Linked DNA regions of Homo sapiens. The protein of the gene in region 3 interacts with the protein of the main gene of each other region in a biochemical or structural test. Each region holds a gene or a part of one and is shown on either strand. Other genes may lie near its edges.

What was found. Proteins that work in one complex are often made in the same cells at the same time.
Region 1: the proteins of SPN (region 3) and ICAM1 form a complex in vitro, tested with the Homo sapiens proteins (one large-scale study listed by IntAct).
Region 2: the proteins of SPN (region 3) and SIGLEC1 form a complex in vitro, tested with the Homo sapiens proteins (one large-scale study listed by IntAct).
Region 4: the proteins of SPN (region 3) and EZR form a complex in vitro, tested with the Homo sapiens proteins (one study listed by BioGRID).

What each region holds. Positions count from the first base shown.
Region 1 is NC_000019.10:10,273,427-10,278,799, forward strand, and holds part of ICAM1 (intercellular adhesion molecule 1 precursor), read left to right. Parts: intron 1-1,338; coding exon 1,339-1,602; intron 1,603-5,373. UniProt on the Homo sapiens protein: ICAM proteins are ligands for the leukocyte adhesion protein LFA-1 (integrin alpha-L/beta-2).
Region 2 is NC_000020.11:3,690,921-3,696,293, forward strand, and holds part of SIGLEC1 (sialoadhesin isoform 1 precursor), read right to left. Parts: intron 4,004-5,373; coding exon 3,743-4,003; intron 3,613-3,742; coding exon 3,301-3,612; intron 2,779-3,300; coding exon 2,527-2,778; intron 2,212-2,526; coding exon 1,942-2,211; intron 1,853-1,941; coding exon 1,601-1,852; intron 1,283-1,600; coding exon 983-1,282; intron 681-982; coding exon 420-680; intron 1-419. UniProt on the Homo sapiens protein: Macrophage-restricted adhesion molecule that mediates sialic-acid dependent binding to lymphocytes, including granulocytes, monocytes, natural killer cells, B-cells and CD8 T-cells.
Region 3 is NC_000016.10:29,668,517-29,672,612, forward strand, and holds the end of SPN (leukosialin precursor), read left to right. Parts: 3' UTR 1-2,360; downstream 2,361-4,096. UniProt on the Homo sapiens protein: Predominant cell surface sialoprotein of leukocytes which regulates multiple T-cell functions, including T-cell activation, proliferation, differentiation, trafficking and migration.
Region 4 is NC_000006.12:158,769,689-158,775,061, reverse strand, and holds part of EZR (ezrin), read left to right. Parts: intron 1-3,654; coding exon 3,655-3,818; intron 3,819-4,167; coding exon 4,168-4,298; intron 4,299-5,117; coding exon 5,118-5,278; intron 5,279-5,373. UniProt on the Homo sapiens protein: Probably involved in connections of major cytoskeletal structures to the plasma membrane. In epithelial cells, required for the formation of microvilli and membrane ruffles on the apical pole. Along with PLEKHG6, required for normal macropinocytosis.

The sequences.
Region 1 (5,373 bases), on a different chromosome or scaffold from region 3:
GGTTGCGGTGAACTGAGATCGTGCCATTGCACTCCAGCCTGGGCAACAAGAGCTAAACTCCGTCTCAAAAAAAAAAAAATGTTTTTCAAATATTAGCCGGGTATGGTGGTGTCCTGTAGTCCCAGCTACTTGGGAGGCTGAGATGGGAGGATCACTTGAGCCCAGGAGTTCAAGGTTACAGTGAGCTATGATTGTGCCACTGTATTCCAGCCTGGGTAACAGAGGGAGACCCGTTTAAAAAAAAAAAAGTGATGGCTAAAGTCCTTCCATGGCTCCCTATTGCCCTCAGTATAAAGAACACATGTGGCTGGGCGTGGTGGTTCACGCCTGTAATCCCAGCACTTTGGGAGGCTGAGGCGGGCGGATCACTTGAGGCCAGGAGTTTGAGAGCAGGCTGGCCGACGTGGCGAAACCCCGTCTCTATTAAAAATACAAAAATTAGCTGGGCGTGGTGGTGCTTGCCTGTAATCCCAGATACTCTGGAGGCTGAGGCAGGAGAATCACTTGAACCCGGGAGGCAAAGGTTGCAGTGAGCTGAGATTGCGCCACTGCACTCCAGTCTGAGTGACAAAGCGAGACTCCATCTCAAAAAAAAAAAAAATAAAAGAACACATCTTTAGCATGGCCTTCAGTGCTCACGGGATCTTCCTGAATTAATCTCCCCCTCTTCATCCTTGCTCACTCAGCTCCAGCCACCCTGCCCCGGGACATCTGTACTTGCCTGGAACTTATTTCCCTTTTCTCCGGACAGCCAGCCCTTTCTCGTCATTTAGATCTCTGCTGAAACATTACCCTGTCACCAAAGCACTGTCTATTCTATCACCCTGTTTTGTTTTTGTCAAAGCTCATATTAACATCAGTTATTAATTATCTTGTTTGCTCATAATTTTTTTTTTTTTTTTTTTGGAGACAGAGTCTCGTTCTGTTGCTCAGGCTGGAGTGCAGTGGCACAATCTTGGCTCACTGTAACCTCCACCTCCCAGGTTCAAGTGATTCTTGTGCCTCAGCCTCCCAAATAGCTAGGACTACAGGCACGTCCCACCATGCCCAGCTAATTTTTGTATTTTTAGTGGAGACGGGGCTTTGTCATGTTGGCCAGGCTGATCTCAAATTCCTGACCTCAAGTGATCTGCCCGCCTTGGCCTCCCAAAGTGCTGGGATTACAGGCGTGAGCCACCACACCCGGCCTGCTCATGAATTTTCTCTTTAACTTCCACATCGAAGGCAAAGTATTGTCTTGTTAAGGCTGTGCCTCCAGCACCCAGCACAGGCTGGGCGCACATTCCCTTGATGAACCTGATTTGTAATGCCTGTCGCCTCTTCCCTCGTTTCTTCTAGGACCTGGCAATGCCCAGACATCTGTGTCCCCCTCAAAAGTCATCCTGCCCCGGGGAGGCTCCGTGCTGGTGACATGCAGCACCTCCTGTGACCAGCCCAAGTTGTTGGGCATAGAGACCCCGTTGCCTAAAAAGGAGTTGCTCCTGCCTGGGAACAACCGGAAGGTGTATGAACTGAGCAATGTGCAAGAAGATAGCCAACCAATGTGCTATTCAAACTGCCCTGATGGGCAGTCAACAGCTAAAACCTTCCTCACCGTGTACTGTGAGTAACTGAGCCCGGAGGGCTGGACTAGGCAGACCCGGTGGGAGAGACGTGCAGGGGCACCTGCAGAGGCCTGGGGGAATCTTTGCCACTTGCTCGTAGGGTCAAGGAGGGGCTCCTTGCAGGGCAGGTGGGGACATCCTTGGAAAGTCCCTTTGTGAATTTCTTTGGGTACAATTAAAGTATTTACAGGCTGGGTGCGGTGGCTCATGCCTGTAATCCCAGCACTTTGAGAGGCTGAGGCTGGCGGATCACCTGAGATCAGGAGTTTAAGTTTCGCCAACATGGCGAAACCCTGTCTCTGCTGAAAATACAAAAATCAGCCGGGCATGGTGTCAAGCGCCTGTAATCCCAGCTACTTGGAAGGCTGAGGCAGGAGAACGCTTGAACCTGAGAGGCAGAGATTGCAGTGAGCCGCGATCGTGCCAGTGCACTCCAGTCTGGATAACAGAGCAAGATTCCATCTCAAGAAAAAAAAAATGCCATCTCTCTATGCCTCACTCTTTGAACATATGACACGGTCCTGCTTCAGACACTTTAATAAAAGATGCAAATTAAGCCAAGTGTGGTGGCTTGTACCTATAATCCCAACTACTCCAGAGGCTGAGGCAGAAGGATGGTTTGAGCCCAGGAGTTTGAGACCAGCCTGGGCAACAGAGTGAGACCCTGTTTCTTTCTTTTTTTTTTTTTTTTTTTTGAGACGGAGTCTCACTCTGTCGCCCAGGCTGGAGTGCAGTGGTGTGATCTCGGCTCACTGCAAGCTCCGCCTCCCGGGTTCACGCCATTCTCCTGCCTCAGCCTCCCGAGTAGCTGGGACTACAGGCGCCTGCCACCATGCCCGGCTCATTTTTTTGTATTTTTAGTAGAGACGGGGTTTCACTGTGTTAGCCAGGATGGTCTCAATCTCCTGACCTAGTGGTCCGCCCGCCTCGGCCTCCCAAAGTGCTGGGATTACAGGTGTAAGCCACTGTGCCCATCCAAGACCCTGTTTCTACCGGAAAAAAAAAGTAAATAATTTAGCTGGGCATCGTGGTGTGCACCTGTAATCCCAGCTGCTCCTGAGGCTGTGATGGGAGGATTGCTTTAACCCAGGGGTTCGAATCCTAGGAGTTCGAATCCATCCTAGGCAACATAGCAAAACCCCATTTTTATTTAAAAAAAAAAAAAAAGATATGAGTTAAAACTAGCCCTGGGATGGCATTTTTCACATATTGGTAACAAACAAAAGAATTGATGGCCGGGCGCAGTGGCTCACGCCTGTAATCCCAGCACTTTGGGAGGCCGAGGCGGGCGGATCACAAGGTCAGGAGATCGAGACCATCCTGGCTAACATGGTGAAACCCCGTCTCTACTAAAACTACAAAAAATTAGCCGGGCATGGTGGCAGGCGCCTGTGGTCCCAGCTACTCAGGAGGCTGAGGCAGGAGAATGGCATGAACCCGGGAGGCAGAGCTTGCAGTGAGCCAAGATCGTGCCACTGCACTCCAGCCTGGGCGACAGAGCAAGACTCCATCTCAAAAAAAAAAAAAAAAAAAAGAATTGATAACAGCTGTGCTGCCAAGGCTATTGGAACGTAGGAGGTCCTAGGACAGTGCTGTTGGGAGCATAAATAAGCCCAACCCTGTGGCGGGAAATTGGGCATCAGTTCTCAAAATGTCATGGGCTGGGCACGGTGGCTCACGCCTGTAATCCCAGCACTTTGGGAGGCTGAGGGAGGCGGATCACTTGAGGTCAGGAGTTCGAGACCAGCCTGACCACCATGGAGAAACCCCGTCTCTATTAAAAATACAAAAAAAACTAGCCAGGCATAGTGGCACATACCTGTAATCCCAGCTACTCGGGAGGCTGAGGCAGGAGAATCTCTTGAAACTGGGAGGCAGAGGTTGCGGTGAGCTGAGATTGCGCCACTGCACTCCAGCTTGGGCAACAAGAGCAAAACTCCATCTCAAAAAAAAAAAAAAAAGAAATAAAAGAAGGTATGTTGAATATGAGTGGTATGCCACCCTCACATTAGGGAAGGGCAGTTTCGGGGAGGCTGTATTTATGTATAAAATAGCCCTAAAAGGAAGTGGGAGAAATGACAATATTAGCTGGCTATGAGAAGAGAGGCTGGGAGGCTGTGGGAGAGGGCTTGGGTGTGGAGAATTCTTTTTGTTTTTTCCTTTTTTTGAGACAGAGTTTCACTCTTGTTGCCCAGGCTGGAGTGCAATGGCACGATCTCAGCTCACCGCAACCTTCACCTCCTGAGTTTAAGTGATTCTCCGGCCTCAGCCTCCCGACTAGCTGGGATTACAGGCATGGGCCACTACGCCTGGCAAATTTTGTATTTTTAGTAGAGACAGGGTTTCTCCATGTTGGTCAGGCTGGTCTTGAACTCTGACCTCAGGTGATCCGCCCGCCTCGGCCTCCCAAAGTGCTGGGATTACAACGTGAGCCACTTTGCCTGGCTGAGAATTCTTTTTTTGTTGTTGTCTTTTTGAGATGGAGTTTTGCTGTGTCCCCAGCCTGGAGTGCAATGGTGTAATCTCAGCTCACTGCAACCTCTCCCTCCCGGGTTCAAGCAATTCTCCTGCCTCAGCCTCCCAAGTAGCTGGAATTACAGGCGCCCAGCACCACGCCCGGCTAATTTTTGTATTTTTAGTAGAGACGGGATTTCATCATGTTGGCCAGGCTGGTCTTGATCTCCTGACCTTGTGATCTGCCCGCCTCGGCCTCCCAAAGTGCTGGGATTACAGGCGTGAGCCACTGCCCCCAGCCGAGAATTTCTCTTTGCGTCCTTCCTACTTTGGGGACTTCGAATGGTGGGAAAGAGTTATCAAGGCCAAAATAAGGAATTCAAATGAAAACAAAACAAAATCAAAGAAGAAAAAACAGAAGAGCACTGGGCAGGCTAGGCACGTGGCTCATGCCTATAATCCCAGTGATTTAGAAGGCCGAAGTAGAAGGATCGCTTGGAGGCCAGGAGTTGGACACCAGCCTGGGCAACATAGCAAGACCCCATATCTACAAAAAATAAAAAACCTAACCAAGCGTGCTGGCATACTAGTAGTCCCAGCTACTCAGGAGGCTGAGGTGGGAGGATCACCTGAGCCTGGGAGGTCCAGGCTGTAGTGAGCCGTGATGACACCACTGCACTCCAGCCTGGGTGACAGAGAAAGACCCTGTCTCTAAAAAATAAAAACTGGCCAAGTAGCTTTGGGATTAGCCTTGGGTTCCAGTCCCAGCAAGGCCTTTAATAGCTTGGGACATGACTTCTGCATTTACTTTGCAATCAGGTGAGACCTCCTCTGATGGGGAAAATGACACGGTGAGTGACAAAGGATGTTCTCCTATCATTGTGTCAGGGCAAGGAAGCCTCTGGGTAAATGATCAAATGATCAGCTTTGCTTCTGATTTGGAGGGTGGGTGAGCAGATGCTGACCTTCCCAGGTGAGGGAAGTCCCCGAACATTCCCAGCAGCTTCTGGAAACCCCAGGGAAACCTCTTTGAAGGTCTTTTCTGCATCTCTGCCTGATAGGTCTTTTTTTTTTTTTTTTTTTTTTTCTTTTTTTTGACACACAGTCTTGCTCTGTCGCCCAGGCTGGATCACTGCAACCTCCATCTCCCGGGTTCAAGCAGTTCTCCTGCCTCATCCTCTCCAGTAGCTGGGATTACAGGCACCTGGCACCACGCCTGGCTAATTTTTGTATTTTTAGTAGAGACAGGGTTTCGCCAAGTTGGCCAGGCTGGTCTCGAACTCTAGACCTCTGGTGATCCACCCGCCTCAGCCTC
Region 2 (5,373 bases), on a different chromosome or scaffold from region 3:
CCCAGGCTCAAGTGAGTCTCCTGCCTCAGCCTCCTGAATAGCTGGGATTACAGGTGTGTGCCTTCATGCCGTGCTAATTCTTGTATTTTTAGTAGAGACGGAGTTTCGCCATATTGACCAGGCTAGTCTTGAACTCCTGACCTCAAGTGATCCGCCCACCTCAGCCTCTCAAAGTGCTGGGATTACAGGCATAAGCCCCTGCACCAGCCATTTATTTCTTATACAACTTGCAGGATGAGGCGAATGATGTATTCCCCATTTTACAAGGTCACCCAACCAGACAGCGGGAGAGCCAGGATTCCAACCCAGGACTCAATATCCGTGAAGCCTTCACTCTTGGCAGACAGAAGAGGAGGAAGAACTGAGGTGGGCGTGTGAGATGTGGGGAGACTAAGGCGGAGGAGGGGGTTCACACTCACAGAGCACACGGAGCATGACTGGAGCAGAGGCAGCAGCCCCAGTGGGGAGCTCAGCCAGGCAGTGGTACATCCCAGCTTGAGCACGAGCCACGTGGGTGAAGGCGAGAGTGGGCACAGGCTCCGCGTGCAGCCGCCGGTCATTCCAGAACCATGCAAAGGTGGAGTTGCCCACAGGCCCAGGGCCACCCAGGAGGCGGCAGCTGAGGTTCAGGGCAGCGCCCTCAGGCACGTCCAGGCCAGGCTCTGCCACCACGCGTGCACCTGCGGGCGGAGGATAGAGAGATGATTGGGGATCTGTAGGCCTTGGGGGCTGGAGCCTCTGGGTGGGACCTCTGAGGGGCCTCTGCACATTGTGGGAAGGTCTCAGTCTGACTTGGTATAGGGCTTTCCAAGGTGGAACCATGCCCCCTCCAGTGGGAGCTGTGCCCCCTCCACCAGATTAGGCTTCTCAAGGCAGAGCTTTCTCAGACCAGACAGCCCGCTCTAGTGGGAGCTCCAGCCCCTCTCGTGGACTTGGACCTGAGAGCATCAGAGCCCCTCCTCCTCCCCTCTCTTCCACTCACCTTCTACCTGCAACCGCCCGATGGTGCTGATTGAGCCCAGCAAGTTTTGGGCTGTGCAAACATAGGTGTCATCACCTGCAGGCACATCTTGCACCTGCAGCCGTAGGGCGTTTCGGGCCACCTGGACATGGCCTGTCCCTGATGCCAAGCTGTGGACCCCGCTGCTCGTGGCCAGCACCTTGCCATCATGAGATAGGGCCAGCTCAGCAGGTGGCTCACTGTCCACAGTGCACTGTATCACAGCCATGGATCTGGCCCTGGAGTCCCGGAAGGAGGACAGGACAGCGTCCTGAGGGGCATCTGTGGGCAGGCAGGGCACAGATGGGGACCTTGCTTAGGCACCCTGTACTGCTCATTGCCTAGCTGCCTGGGGTTGGTCAGGCTGAGGCCTCTGGACCAATGGCCACTTCCTAGAAGTGACACCTTCCCAGGAGTCCTGTGGGCAGAGTGCTCCAGGCAGGGCTTATAGGACTGTCTCTTTCTCTAGCACCTATGTCCTCTTTCCCCAACTGCCCATTCCTGGGCCCACTGCAGTCCTTTGCCCACTCCCACCAGAGCCCAGAAGCACCCTCCACCACCCTCCTCCTGGGCAGCCCTGGCCAAGGACCCTCTGCTCACAGAGGACTTGCAGGGCAGCAGGACGGGAGCTGCGGGTGCCCTGGGCATCCTGGGCCTGGCAAGAGTAGGCGCCTGCATGAGCCCGCGTGGCCACCAGGAATGAGAGTGAGGCAGCTGGACCCTCCTGCAGCCAACGACCGTTGTGGTACCAAGTATAGAGTGTGGGTGCGTGGGCAGCAGGGTCCGCACAGGTCACTGTGATGGGGGCACCTTCAGGCACGGCAGCCTCCGGAGCCAGGATCACCCGCACACCTGTGCCAAGGAGGCCAGGATCAGCCGGGCCCAGCCGGACACCACAGTGGGCTTCCATCCCAGTGGGCTTGGCCTAGGCCCTGCCTTACCCTCCAGCCGCAGCTCCAGGGACGTGTTGGCCTGGCCCAGAGGGCTGCGGGCAGAGCAGCTGTAGAAACCCTCATCCCTGGGCTGTGGCCCTCGCAGCTCCAGGCGCAGGGTGTTGGGGACAGAGGCTGCTGTCGAGGAGGCCAAGAGGCGACCGGCGTGGCTGAGGGCCAGCTGGGCGGGCGGGCGGCTGTCCACAGTGCACAGTACCAGGGCCAGCTGCCCGCCATGGCTCTCCAGGAGGTAGGTCAGGCGCAGGTTGCGGGGCGCGTCTGCAGGGCATGAGAGGCTTACACGGAGTCACAGGCAGCAGCCTGCAGGAGGCCAGTTTGCAGGTGGCATTCAAACTCAGGAGGGCCCTGGCTCCCCACCCCTATGGCTCCCAACCACCCAGTCTGAGGCACTGCTCCTCTGCCCAGACAGGACTCACCCCAGCGCCCCCTACTCTTAATGCTCCTTGCCCAGTGCTCCACTAGCTACTGGGTACCGAGTTCCCCACTGGACACCTGTCGGGTTCCGGCCATGCCGTGATCCCTGTGGGCTTCTGTCATTCCTGTGAGTCCCACCCTGCATCCAGCCAGACTCACAGAGGACGTCCAAGGTGATAGGTCTGGAGAGGCGGGGTGCCCGACCAGGGGGGCCCACACCGCAGCGGTAGGAGGTGGCATCCCTGACTGTGACGTTGGGCAGGGGGATGGAGTGGGCATCCAGGCGCTGCTGCCCATCCTGGTACCATGTGTAGGTGAGCTGGGCCGGGTGAGTGGTCCACACAAGGCAGGTCAGGTTCACCAGCTGCCCCTCCCGCACGGTAGCCCCGGGCCACACCTGCACATTCACAGCTGGGGAGAGGGAGGGCACAGGACACCAGTGAGGGTCTTGAGGCTGTGTACAGCAGGCCACCTGTCTCCATGTGGGTGAGCTACTCCTACTGCTGGGGAGCCCCTTGGCCTTTGGGAGCCTTGGGTGGCCCACCTATAAATGTGGCTTAGAAGTCAAGCTTGGGAATAGCCCACTGGCTCCTGAGTGGTCCCAAGTAGAGTTCCACAGAGTCCTGGAAAGCCCTGAGCCCCTCCCTGACCCTGGCTGGGGGCAAATGGGGAGACCACAGACCTCCCCTCCCCTGCTGCACTTTCTCCTGAAATTCCCTGTTTAGTTTTATCCACTGGGCATACTTGTAAAATTTGGTGTTTATAAAAGGTTCTCCTAAGAAACTCAAGTCTGGAGTCCACCATCGTTAGGAAGGGTGGGAATGGGGACTATTCCCGTGCCCCCAGGCTTCTAGAACCCTGTCCCACCTCCTCTCCTCTTTTAAAGGACACACACACACACACACACACACACACACACACACACACACTGACCTTGAGCGTCGAAGTCAGCTGAGGCCGAGGCCTGGCCCAGGGTGTTGGAGGCCTCACAGATATAGACACCCTCATCCTCCAGCATAGCCCCGTGGATCTCCAGACGCAGTGTGTTGGGGGCCACAGCCACATGCAGCCTGGGAGAGCTGCCTTCGGGTCCCCCCACACCTTGTAGGGTGGAGGCCACAAGGCGATCCCCGTGGAGCAGCCGCAGCTGGGCCGGAGGGTCACTGTCCACACGGCACAGGAGGAGGCCCAGTCGTCCAGGGCCTGTGTCCATCAGGGTAGTGAGTGTGACGTGGCGTGGGGCATCTACACAGGGTGGGGAGTGGTCAGGACCCAGCCAGGGGGGTCCCTCATCCAGGGCTCTGTCATGTGACACAGCCCAGGACTGGGGGACTGCATTCCTTCCCCCACACCTGGATGGGACAAAAGTCCTTACAGGACACGTGGAGGCTGATGGGTGCAGCTAGGCTCGTGGTGGCTGAGCCTGGGGCCTGGGCTTGGCAATGATAGGCCCCAGCTTGTGTCAAAGTTATGGCTGCAAAGCGGAGCGTGGCCGAGGTCGACTCCTGGAGGGGCTGGCCATCCCGATACCAACGATATGAGGTCCCCTCTGGGACTCCTGTGTGTACCTGGCAGCTCAGGACCACAGCCTGGCCCTCTTGGAGCTCAGGTGATGGTGACACCTGGACCCAGGCTCCTGCAGGGGAAAACCAAGAGCAGGTGAGGGCTCTCCACCACACCTCTCACAGTCTGGGACCATGTGCGTGTCCACCTAGGACTACACAACCCAACCCCATGTGCTGGAGCCGCAGCCCCTTCCAGACCACCGCCAGGGCCCACTCAGCCCTATGCCTTGGCCCCTCCTGCTCCCCACTCTCCTGCACAGGCTCCATCCTGGCATTTACCTCCCACCACCTGGTGGGATGGTTTTACTGTGTCAGTCATATCTCGCCTACCAAAGCGTAAGCCTTATGGGCACTGGACTTGTGTGACCTGTAACCCCAGTTCCAGGCACTGTGCCTGCATGTGTTAGCTCCTGACAAATGTTGGTTCAACCCATAAAGTACTGAAAAGGGAGGGATTTAGATCATCCCGGGGCCATTGTCCTAACTAGGATCTGGACTCAGCATGGGTGACCGAGGGCTTGGAAGGGAATGTTAGCAGCTATGTTATCTTGAGCGCTCTCGCCAGGCCAGCCCTGCATCCAGACTCCAGGCCACAAGAGCACAGGACCTGGGGACCAGGCAAAGGGCAGCTCCTCAGTGGCCCCTGGGTGTGAAGCAGGAGAACCCCAGGTTGCAGGGAGTGAGATGGAGGGACAGCTGGAATGCTAAGCAAGAACACAGACCATGCCTGAGACCACAGCTAGCAGGGTCATGCAACTGGGGAAAAGCTCCTAAAACTCAAACCTTCAATTTCTTCCTGCGAAATAGGTATGCTAAGTAAGAAAAGATACACAGAACCAAGGCTCAAAGTAAATGTCCCAAAATTGGTGCTGTCGGTCACCGTGGTGGAAGAAACACTCATGTTCCTTTGACCTTCGCATTATGGGCATTATCTTTCCTTTTTCCTGGTTTATTTGTTTAGGGAGAATTTTTTTTTTTTTAAGACAGAGTCTCACTCTGTCATCCAGGCTAGAGTGAAGTACAATTTTGGCTCACTGCAACCTCCATCTCCCAGGTTCAAACGATTCGCCTGCCTTAGCCTCCCGAGTAACTGGGATTACAAATGCCCACCACCACACCTAGCTAATTTTTGTATTTTTAGTAGAGTGTTGGCCAGGCTGGTCTTGAACTCCTGACCTCAAGTGATCCGCCCGCCTCAGCCTCCCAAAGTGCTGGGATTACAGGCATGAGCCATGGTGCCCGGCCTGAGGGAGGATTTTTATAGAGACTATATATATACACACACACAAACACACACACACACACACACACACACGTATGTGTATATAAATAAAGAATATGAATATATTATGCATAAGAATACACATAATGTATATTTGTATGTGTATATACTCATACATAAACATATATGCATAATATAAATATACATATGTATGAGAAT
Region 3 (4,096 bases):
AGTGGTGCAATCACAGCTCACCACAGCCTCAACCTCCTGGGCCTCCCAAGTAGCTGCGATCACAGGTGTGCACCAACATGCCCAGCTAATTTTTTTTTTTAATTTTTAATTTGTACAGACAGGGTCTTGCTGTGTTGCCCAGGCTGGTCTCAAACTCCTGGGCTCAAGTGGTCCTCCCACCTAAGCTTCCCCAAATACTGGGATTATAGGTGTGAGCCACTGTGCCCAGGCTTGCCTCAGATATTTGAAGGCTGGGAAGGATTTTGCAAAGCTGGGAAAAGGAAAAGGCATTCCCAGCAGAGGGGATAGCAGGTGGAAATACATAATTAAAAAAAAAAAACGTGGAGCAGATCCAGCGCAGTGGCTCATGCCTGTAATCCCAGCACTTTGGGAGGCAGAGCAGGGAGGATTGCTTGAGTCTAGGAGTTCAAGACCAGCCTGGGTAACATAGAAAGACCCTGTCTCTACAAAAACACAAAAAATTAGCCAGGCGTGGTGGTGCATGCCTGTAGTACCAGCTACTTGAGAAGCTGAGGCAGGAGGACTGCTTGAAGCCAGGAGTTTGAGACCAGCCTGGGCAACATAGTGAGACCCCGTGTCTACAAAAAGTAAACATTTATATATATATTTTTTAAAGTGGAGCAGTTCAATATAGAGTCTTTTTTGAACAAACGTGAAATAGATGTCTTTTTTTTTTTTTTGAGATGGAGTTTTCACTCTTGTTACCCAGGCTGGAGTGCAATGGCGTGATCTTGGCTCACCAGAACCTCCGCCTCCTGGGTTCAAACAATTCTCCTGCCTCAGCCTCCCAGGTAGCTGGGATTACAGGCATGCACCACCAAACCCGGATAATTTTGTATTTTTAGTAGAGATGGGGTTTCACCATGTTGGTCAAGCTGGTCTTGAACTCCCGACCTCTGCTGATCCGTATGCCTCGGCCTCCCAAAGTGCTGGGATTACATGCGTGAGCCACCGTGCCCGACAATAGATGTCTTTTAATTTTCTGGAGGAAAAAGCAAAGCAAAAGAAGCAGTGGATATTTTAAGACTAAAAAGGAAAACAAAAAAAGGAGATAGAGCAGGCCAGACGTGGTGGCTCAACGTCTGTAATCCCAGCACTTTGGGAGGCCGAGGCAGGTGGATCACCTGAGGTCAGGAGTTCAAGACCAGCCTGACCAACATGGTGAAACCCTGTTTCAAAATACAAAAAATTAGCTGGGCGTGGTGGCGGGCACCTGTAATCCCAGCTACTTGGGAGGCTGAGGCAGGAGAATCCCTTGAACCCAGGAGGTGGAGGTTGCAGTGAGCCGAGATCACGCCATTGCACTCCAGCCTGGGCGACAAGTAAAAAACTCCATCTCAAAAAAAAAAAAGGAGATAGAGCAAGGAACAGTAAGAAAATAGTTGGGTGCAGTGGCTATGCGGTGGCACTATAGGAGGCTGAGGCGGGCAGATCACCTGAGGTCAGGAGTTGGAGACCAGCCTGGGCAACATAGACCCCTATCTCTACAAAAAATTTGAAATATGAAAAATTAGCCAGGTGTAGTGGTGTGCGCCTGTGGTACCAGCTACTCAAGAGGCGAAGGCAGGGAAGATTGCTTGAGCCCAGGAGTTTGAGGCTATAGTGAGCTGTGATCATGCCACTGCACTCCAGCCTGGGCAATAGTGTGAGACTCTGTCTCAAAAGAAAGAACATGGCCAGGCGTGGTGGCTCACACCTGTAATCCCAGCACTTTGGGAGGCCGAGGCAGTCAGATCATGAGGCCAGTTTGAAACCAGCCTGGCCAACATGGTGAAACCCTGTCTCTACTAAAAATACAAAAATTAGCCAGGCGTGGTGGCATGCCCCCGTAATCCCAGCTACTTGGGGGTCTGAGGCAGAAGAATTGCTTGAAACCGGGAGGCAGAGGTTGCAGTGAGCCGAGATCGTGTCATTGCACTCTAGTCTGGGCGACAGAGCAAGACTCCGTCTTGGAAAAAAATTTAAAAAAAGAAAATATAAAATATGGTATAAGATTAAATATATTAGTTATGAAAATAATTGTAAATGGCTTATTGAACTTATAGTCAGTAAAAATCATGTTTTTGAAAATTATGTAATGACTTTGGAAAATACCAGCAATATAATGTTAAGTGGGGAAAAAAGCAAGTTACTCCTCTGTAATACATATGATTTTAGTTTTGTAATAAAAATTCCCAACCATATATGCACTTATAGGGAAACAAAGGACCCATCGCAAATGTTTTCCATGCTGATCTCCAAAGTGGTGAGTTTATGTGTGATTTTTATTTTGTTTATGCTCTTCTGTATTTTCCGAATTTCATACAATAAATATCTGTTACTTTTACAATATGAAAAAATAGTGGTCAAAAAGGTGTTCAAGGGGGTGGCCTGGGGGTGTCTGGTTTGAGGAGAGTGGTAGGGGATGAGGCTGCAAGTGGAGGTTGGAGCCATGCTATGAAAAGTTCAAGAGTTTGAATTGAGTTCTGAGGTTTGTTTTTGTTTTTGTTTTTGTTTTTTGAGACGGAGTCTCACCCTGTCACCCAGGCTGGAGTGCAGTGGCACGGGTTCATGCCATTCTCCTGCCTCAGCCTCCTGAGTAGCTGGAACCACACGCGCCCGCCACCACACCAGGCTAATTTTTTTGTATTTTTAGGAGAGACAGGGTTTCACCATGTTAGCCAGGATGGTCTCGATCTCCTGACCTCGTGATCCACCTGCCTCGGCCTCCCAAAGTGCTGGGATTACAGGCGTGAGCCACAGTGCTCTGCGTGAGCCATAGTGCTCTGCTGAGAGTTTGAATTGCATTCTGGAAGTAGTGGTGAAATCAACACACCTAAGTCTGCTCTTCTCCTCTCTTCTAGTCCCCAGAGTGGTGAGTAGCATCGTTCTGGTGGCCCAGGCAAAACGCCTTAGGACCACCGTGCAGCCCCACTCTTTCCCCATTCCTGCTCTCCAGGTGCCAAGTCCCTGGCTCTTCTTCCACCGACCCTTGCATCCCTTCCTTCTCTTCAGTCCTCATCGCACCTCACCGGGATCCTATTGACACTTCCCCTTTGATTTCCTTCCGCTCTCTGCTAGTGATGGTCCCAGGGACCCTTCTAAAAGGTCACTGTGGGCTGGGCACAGTGGCTCACGCCTGTAATCCCAACACTTTGAGAGGCTGAGGTGGGCCAATCATCTGAGGTCAGGAGTTCGAGACCAGCCTGGCCAACATGGTGAAACCCCATCTCTACTGAAAGTACAAAAATTAGCCGGGCGTGGTGGTGTGCACCTGTAGTCCCAGCTACTCGGGAGGCTGAGGCGGGGGAATTGTTGGTCCCCGGGAGATGGAGGTTGCAGTGAGCCAAGATCGCGCCGTTGCACTCCAGCCTGGGTGACAGAATGAGACTCCGTCTCAAAAAAAAAAAAAAAAGAAAAAAGAAAAATAGCTGGGCATCGTGGCACACACCTGTAGTTCCAGCTACTCAGGAGGATGAGGTAGGAAGATCACTTGAGCCCAAGAGGTCCAGACTGCAGCGAGTCATGATCACACCACTGCACTCCAGCCTGCGTGGCACCCTGTCTCAAAATATAATAATAATAAAATTTAAAAATAAAATAAAACGCTGCTCTGTCTAGGTGATATTCCTCTATCCCCAAGGCTGTCAGGGTGGAACCCTCCTTCCTTAGCGTGGCATATAAGCCCCTCGGGACCTGGCCCTATCTCTCCTCTGACCACCCCTGCCCGGTCAGCCCTTGTTACAGACAGTCTGTGCTATCCAGCCCCATCAAATTCCTGTTGCTCCCTAAATATGCCACACACTTTATTTGGAGGAGAGGGGTGAAGAAGGGTAGTTTAACATGTTCAAAATATTTATTTTTTCCAGACAGTAAAATAACATTTTTTCCTGTTTTGCAAAAGTTAATTATCAGCACATTGAAGATTTTCCTTTTTTTTCTTTTCTTTTTTTTTTTTTTTTTGAGTCAAAGTCTTGCTCTGTTCCCCAGGCTAGAGTGCAGTAGCGCGATCTCGGCTCCACCTCCCGGGTTCAAGTGATTATCCTGTTTCAGCCTCCCGAGTAGCTGGGACTACAAGCACATGCCACCATGCCCA
Region 4 (5,373 bases), on a different chromosome or scaffold from region 3:
CTCCGTCTCAAAAAAAAAAAAAAAAAAGGGCTCCTGCTGTTTGCAAACTCTTGGCTGCTACTCTGTGGGTAGTTGCACGGTTATTTAAAATTAAACGCGTATTGAATGCAGACTCTAAGGCTCCATGGCAGCAGTTCATATTATGCAACAGCATGAATGGAGGGTCATAGCGTCTTCATGTCACTTGGGTAGTAAGATTGGCACAGTTTAGAAGAGCAAGAAAATGCTGAAATCTCTTCATCAGTAGGCTACTACGTACTCTGTGACGCTACTGCCTTTTCAGAACACTTATTAAAAATTTGACTAGAGCAGCAGCTCTGGACTAGACTGTTTCAGAATGTTTGTGCGTGTGTGTGTGTGTGTGTGTGTGTGTGTGTGTGTGTGTGTGTTTGATGATAAGTCCATCTCTTGAAAAGCTGAAGAATATTTTCATAATAAGCCCCAAGCAGAAGCCATTGTAACGCATCTCGTGCATGTGCCTTTATTATAGAGTAGCCTCATGTGAAGCCATCTCGTAAGCAAAAGAAACATTCGCTGGTGGCACGCTGTCCCAGGCACTCTTCCAGGGCTGTGTGCACCATCAACAAGGCAAAGCTCCTACCCTGGTGAGCCTACATTTACGTGAAGGAAAGGGTTAAAAAGGCAACTGAGATGCTTCCTGGTAGTAAATTTAACAGTACAGCTGTGATTAAAAACTAAGCCGGATCAGAAGATGGGGGTGAGATTCCTTTAGGCAGGTTGGGCAGGAGCCACACTGAGGAGGCAGCATTTGCCTTGAGTGGGCACTGCTGGTTTGAGGAGGTGGAGTTCTGTCACCCCCACAGCACCCCAGGGCTGCTCGAGGCACTGCCCCACCTCAGTCTGTAAACTTTGGGCAGAAGAAGTTCAAGTTTTCGACATCGAACTTTCTTGTAAAAAAGAAGAGGCCCAAAGTTTGAGGCGGTGGGATTCCTTATCTTGTGTTGACTTTCACGGGTCATCTTCACCCCAGGCGGTTTCTGCTGTGAACTCACAAATGAGTCTTTGTCCAGTTCTCACCCAACAACTGGCGTCTCCTTTTTAAAAGCCAGCTTCTCTTCCCTGCCAAGGTGCATACAGCAGTTTGGGGCCACACTTTGGCTCTTTAGATGGGACCTTGTATACAGCTGACACGGCCTGCCCAGGTGACACTATGAGGGGCTGAGGCGGCTGCCTTTTCCCTTTCAAAAGGGCGTTTTGTTCCTGTGGCCTTGTGGAAAAGGCAGAAGGCTCTGAGGCATCTGAAATTTGGAGAAAGTAAGCAGCGTTTCCGCTCTGACTCCTCGGACGCTTCCCCCACGTGACCTTCCCAGGAGCCCCGCTGCCTTTTTGCCTCCCGCGGCTGCCTCCTGCCATCTCTGCGGCCAGATGAGCCTTGGGATTGGCCTCTTGTGGGAGAGTTTCCTGGCATCCTGGGGACTTGAAAAGGGGCTCTTTTACCTTCTCTCCTTCTGTATTTGTAGGGTCTTGGGTTTATTTTTCTTGAACTTTCCTTGTGCCTGGTTTGCATTTTTACCTTGCTGGTCCTCGGCCAGTTTAAAAACCCTGCTCCAGGTCTTGTCGTGTTGTGGTTCTGCATCAGGAAGCTGCATCCTGCATCAGGTTAGGGACTTGGATTTAGAAACATTTCAGTATGAGTCTTTGTTTTAACTTGAAGTGAGAAACCGGCTTCCTTCAAAGGCACTGGGAGAGATTTCCTGCCAGGCACCATCCTCCCTCACCCACTGGCAGTGGACTCCCCAAATTCTGGTTCCCGTTGCTGGCAGGACCTGTCTTCTGCAGGGAAAGGGAGAGAGGGAGACATTGTTATGTTAACCATTGAGGTTTTTCATTGATCCCCCCACCCATGCACCCCCACAACCCCATAAAGGGGAGTTGGTGCTAATCAGCGTTTTCTGAGTCAGGGCCTATTTGGTAGAGTCCTCCAAAGCTGTAATGCAGGATTGTTTCCTCTTGTGTAATAAGGGATAGGTGGGTCATAAAAATGCCGATTGCTCCCAGCTCCACAGACTCCTCCCTGGGAAACCCAATGACTTAACAGCAAGGGTGTGAAACCCCAAAGACAGCCCCACCCAGGAAGTTCATGGGCTCTCAGGGCTTGGCATCACCTCTCACCCTAGGATTTCTGGAACAGATGAAAAGACTGAAGCTAAATAGATTCTTCTCGGATGTGTTGATGAGCCCGCTCAGCCGGTTCCTCGTTAGGTCTCAGAAGTTGCTGTGGGATATATCGCACTGTTTTTTTGTTTTAGCCACCCTGTCCCTCTGTTCCAAATGGTCAGAAGCTGGATGCTGGGGGCCCTGAGGTTAAGAGGAAGCCAACAGAGTCACTGAAAAATAACTTTTCATGGGAGTTTCTAAACCATATTCTTCTGTCTTGTAAGCTAATCACAGCAGTAGCAAGGAGTTGGGACCAAGATTGTCAGCTGTGTCCCAAATGTTTCCAGTCATGGTCACGAGTTTCCCGAAGGCTGTGATTCTGCCTTGTTTTCCAGGAGGCTCCTCTGGTTGTGGTCTTGCAAGGCACTAGCAATTGGAGTGACCGCTGTGTGTGTCAGCCAGCTCTTCCTGCGCCGAGCACCTCCTGAACGTCACCGATAAGGCGGGGACGCCAGCATCTAATGGGACTGCTGGGAGGATTGAGTCCCATATCTGAAGTCCCTTGAGATACCGGCATCCCTGCCTTATGGTTGAAGGCACTGAGCCTGGTGAAGGGATGTGCTCAAGGCTGTGGAGCTCGCACGTGGCTGTCTGTGCTGCACGAGCTGGCAGTGCCTGGCAGGTACTGCACACCTCAAATACCCTGGGAAGATAAGAGATGAGTGAATGTGTGGCCCCTGCCCTTGGGAGCTGATGGCCTCATAGGAGTGAGATGCTGAAAGGAGTCACTGGAGTGAAGTGACAGTGCCACTGCGGCGAGTACCTGTAGCTGGTGTGGCAGGAGCAGGGCTGGATAGCTTTGAGGAGAGAGAACCGAGTGCACAGCGGAGGCTGGGCCCAGAGCTGGAAGGTCTCTGTGTGGGTTGGGCCCAGGCCCTGGAGCTCATCCTGGAGCTCCCAGGCTGGCAGTGATGGGTCGGGGTGGTGACCCAGTCAGTGTAGCAATAACAGTGTGGGAGGGGAGGCTGTGGCAGAGGAGACAGGAAGCCCAAATAGCAGCAGAGGCAGTCCAGGCAAGCATCGGGGATGGGGAGCAGCAGTGAGGCTGGAGAGGACATCATGAAAGGTGGCTACCTGGAAGAGCAGGCAGCTCTGAGACTTGAAAGGTTTCCCAAGGCTGAGAGTTCTCACCTTGGAAAAGCTTTGCAGTTAACGTGCAGTGGCATTTCAGTGTGCATGCAGGATGTCCCTACCCACACACAACTGCACACACACGCGGCACCTGCCCTTCCTCCACCCGTCCCAGAGAATGCACTTTCCCAGTGCTACATACCCACACATAACCGCACACACACGCGGCACGTGCCCTTCCTCCATCTGTCCTGGAGAATGCACATTCCTAGTGCCGAGATGCTGCCATCCCTGTTCTGCTACATTTGTTCTTTTAGAAAAGTTCTGGACCTTTGTGAAGGATGGTTTGGAGAAGAAAACCAAACGAAGGAGCTTGAGTCCAGGTGGCCCTGTTCTGTTTTGTAGGACTTTGTGTTTTATGCCCCACGTCTGAGAATCAACAAGCGGATCCTGCAGCTCTGCATGGGCAACCATGAGTTGTATATGCGCCGCAGGAAGCCTGACACCATCGAGGTGCAGCAGATGAAGGCCCAGGCCCGGGAGGAGAAGCATCAGAAGCAGCTGGAGCGGTGAGCGCGTGAGGCCAGAGTGGGGGGGGCCTGTGTTCTCCCAACTCAGCCACTGGCAGCCAGTGCCTGTCAGGTGACTGTGGAGCTGATGGGGAGAGTGTGGTGGAATGGAACCCAGTCACCACGCTGGGATCTTCGAGGCCTTTGTCTCTGGGCGGTTGCTGTGGTGCTGAGCCTGTTGTCAGCCCTGGAGCGGCTGCTCCGTCAGGCAGCTCAGGCTGGCAGCAGGCTAGGGTGGCCCTCAGGATACCAAGTCCATCCTGGAGCTTCAAGTACCCGTGAAGTGTGTTGACCCCTCACTTTCCTGCCAGAGTCTAAATCTCCCTGTGCCTCTTTTTCCCTGCACCAGGCAACAGCTGGAAACAGAGAAGAAAAGGAGAGAAACCGTGGAGAGAGAGAAAGAGCAGATGATGCGCGAGAAGGAGGAGTTGATGCTGCGGCTGCAGGACTATGAGGAGAAGACAAAGAAGGCAGAGAGAGGTCAGGCGCCCTGGGGCTGGCACTCTACACTGGGTCATGCATTTCCACAGAGTAGCAGGGGCCACACCCACCCACCCACTCACCAGGAAGGAAACCAAGAACGTGTCCCACAGCGCAGACTCACAGCCGAAATGATAAAATGGTTATTTGGTTTGGAAAACAGTTCTGTACTTATTTAACTTTGATGCTAGTTGTTCTAAGACTTTGTATTTTAAAATTTCCCTAGTCTTTTGCGGTAAGTGCTCAATCACCCAGTTTCCCCGATGAGGACAGTAAGGTTTGGTGCGGTACAGTGATTTGCCCACAGTCCCCCAGCCCATGACTGACAGGGCCATGCTGCACTGCCCTCGACCTCTAGACTAAAACCCAAAGGCGTGTTCAGAGCCAGACTTCCCAGCACAGCTCCAGTCAACAACCCCAGCAGCTGGGCCGATTACACAAGGCGCCACAGATGCTGTATTCACTGGCAGCCCTTACAGCACACATGGGAAGGGTGTTCTGTGTTCTGAGTGGAGTGTGGACCACCAGCACAGCGGGCGGCTGACCTGGGGAGAGTAGCGCCAAGAGGGTTGAGTCAGGCATGCCAGAGAGAGGGCGCCTGGCTGGCGTTGGACGGGTTTCTAGCCATCTTGAGGAAGTTGTCATGGATACAGCAGCAATGAGCTCTGTGAAGTGCTTTCCTCCAGGGTCACTGGAAGACATCCCCTCAACCTGTGACTTGGTCTAGGGCTCTGTGGCTTTGGGGGTGGGAATGGAAAGCGAGGGCTCCTAGGTCCCTGGGCTGAGGGTTTGAATGGCTCTGGCTTTGTGTCTTTGCAGAGCTCTCGGAGCAGATTCAGAGGGCCCTGCAGCTGGAGGAGGAGAGGAAGCGGGCACAGGAGGAGGCCGAGCGCCTAGAGGCTGACCGTATGGCTGCACTGCGGGCTAAGGAGGAGCTGGAGAGACAGGCGGTGGATCAGATAAAGAGCCAGGAGCAGCTGGTAGGAATGGCCTGAGTTTCAAGATGCTGAATTATAGAGAGGCTGCTTCTGAGGATGGAAAATGTGACACCTGCCTTGTAATAATTGTCATGACT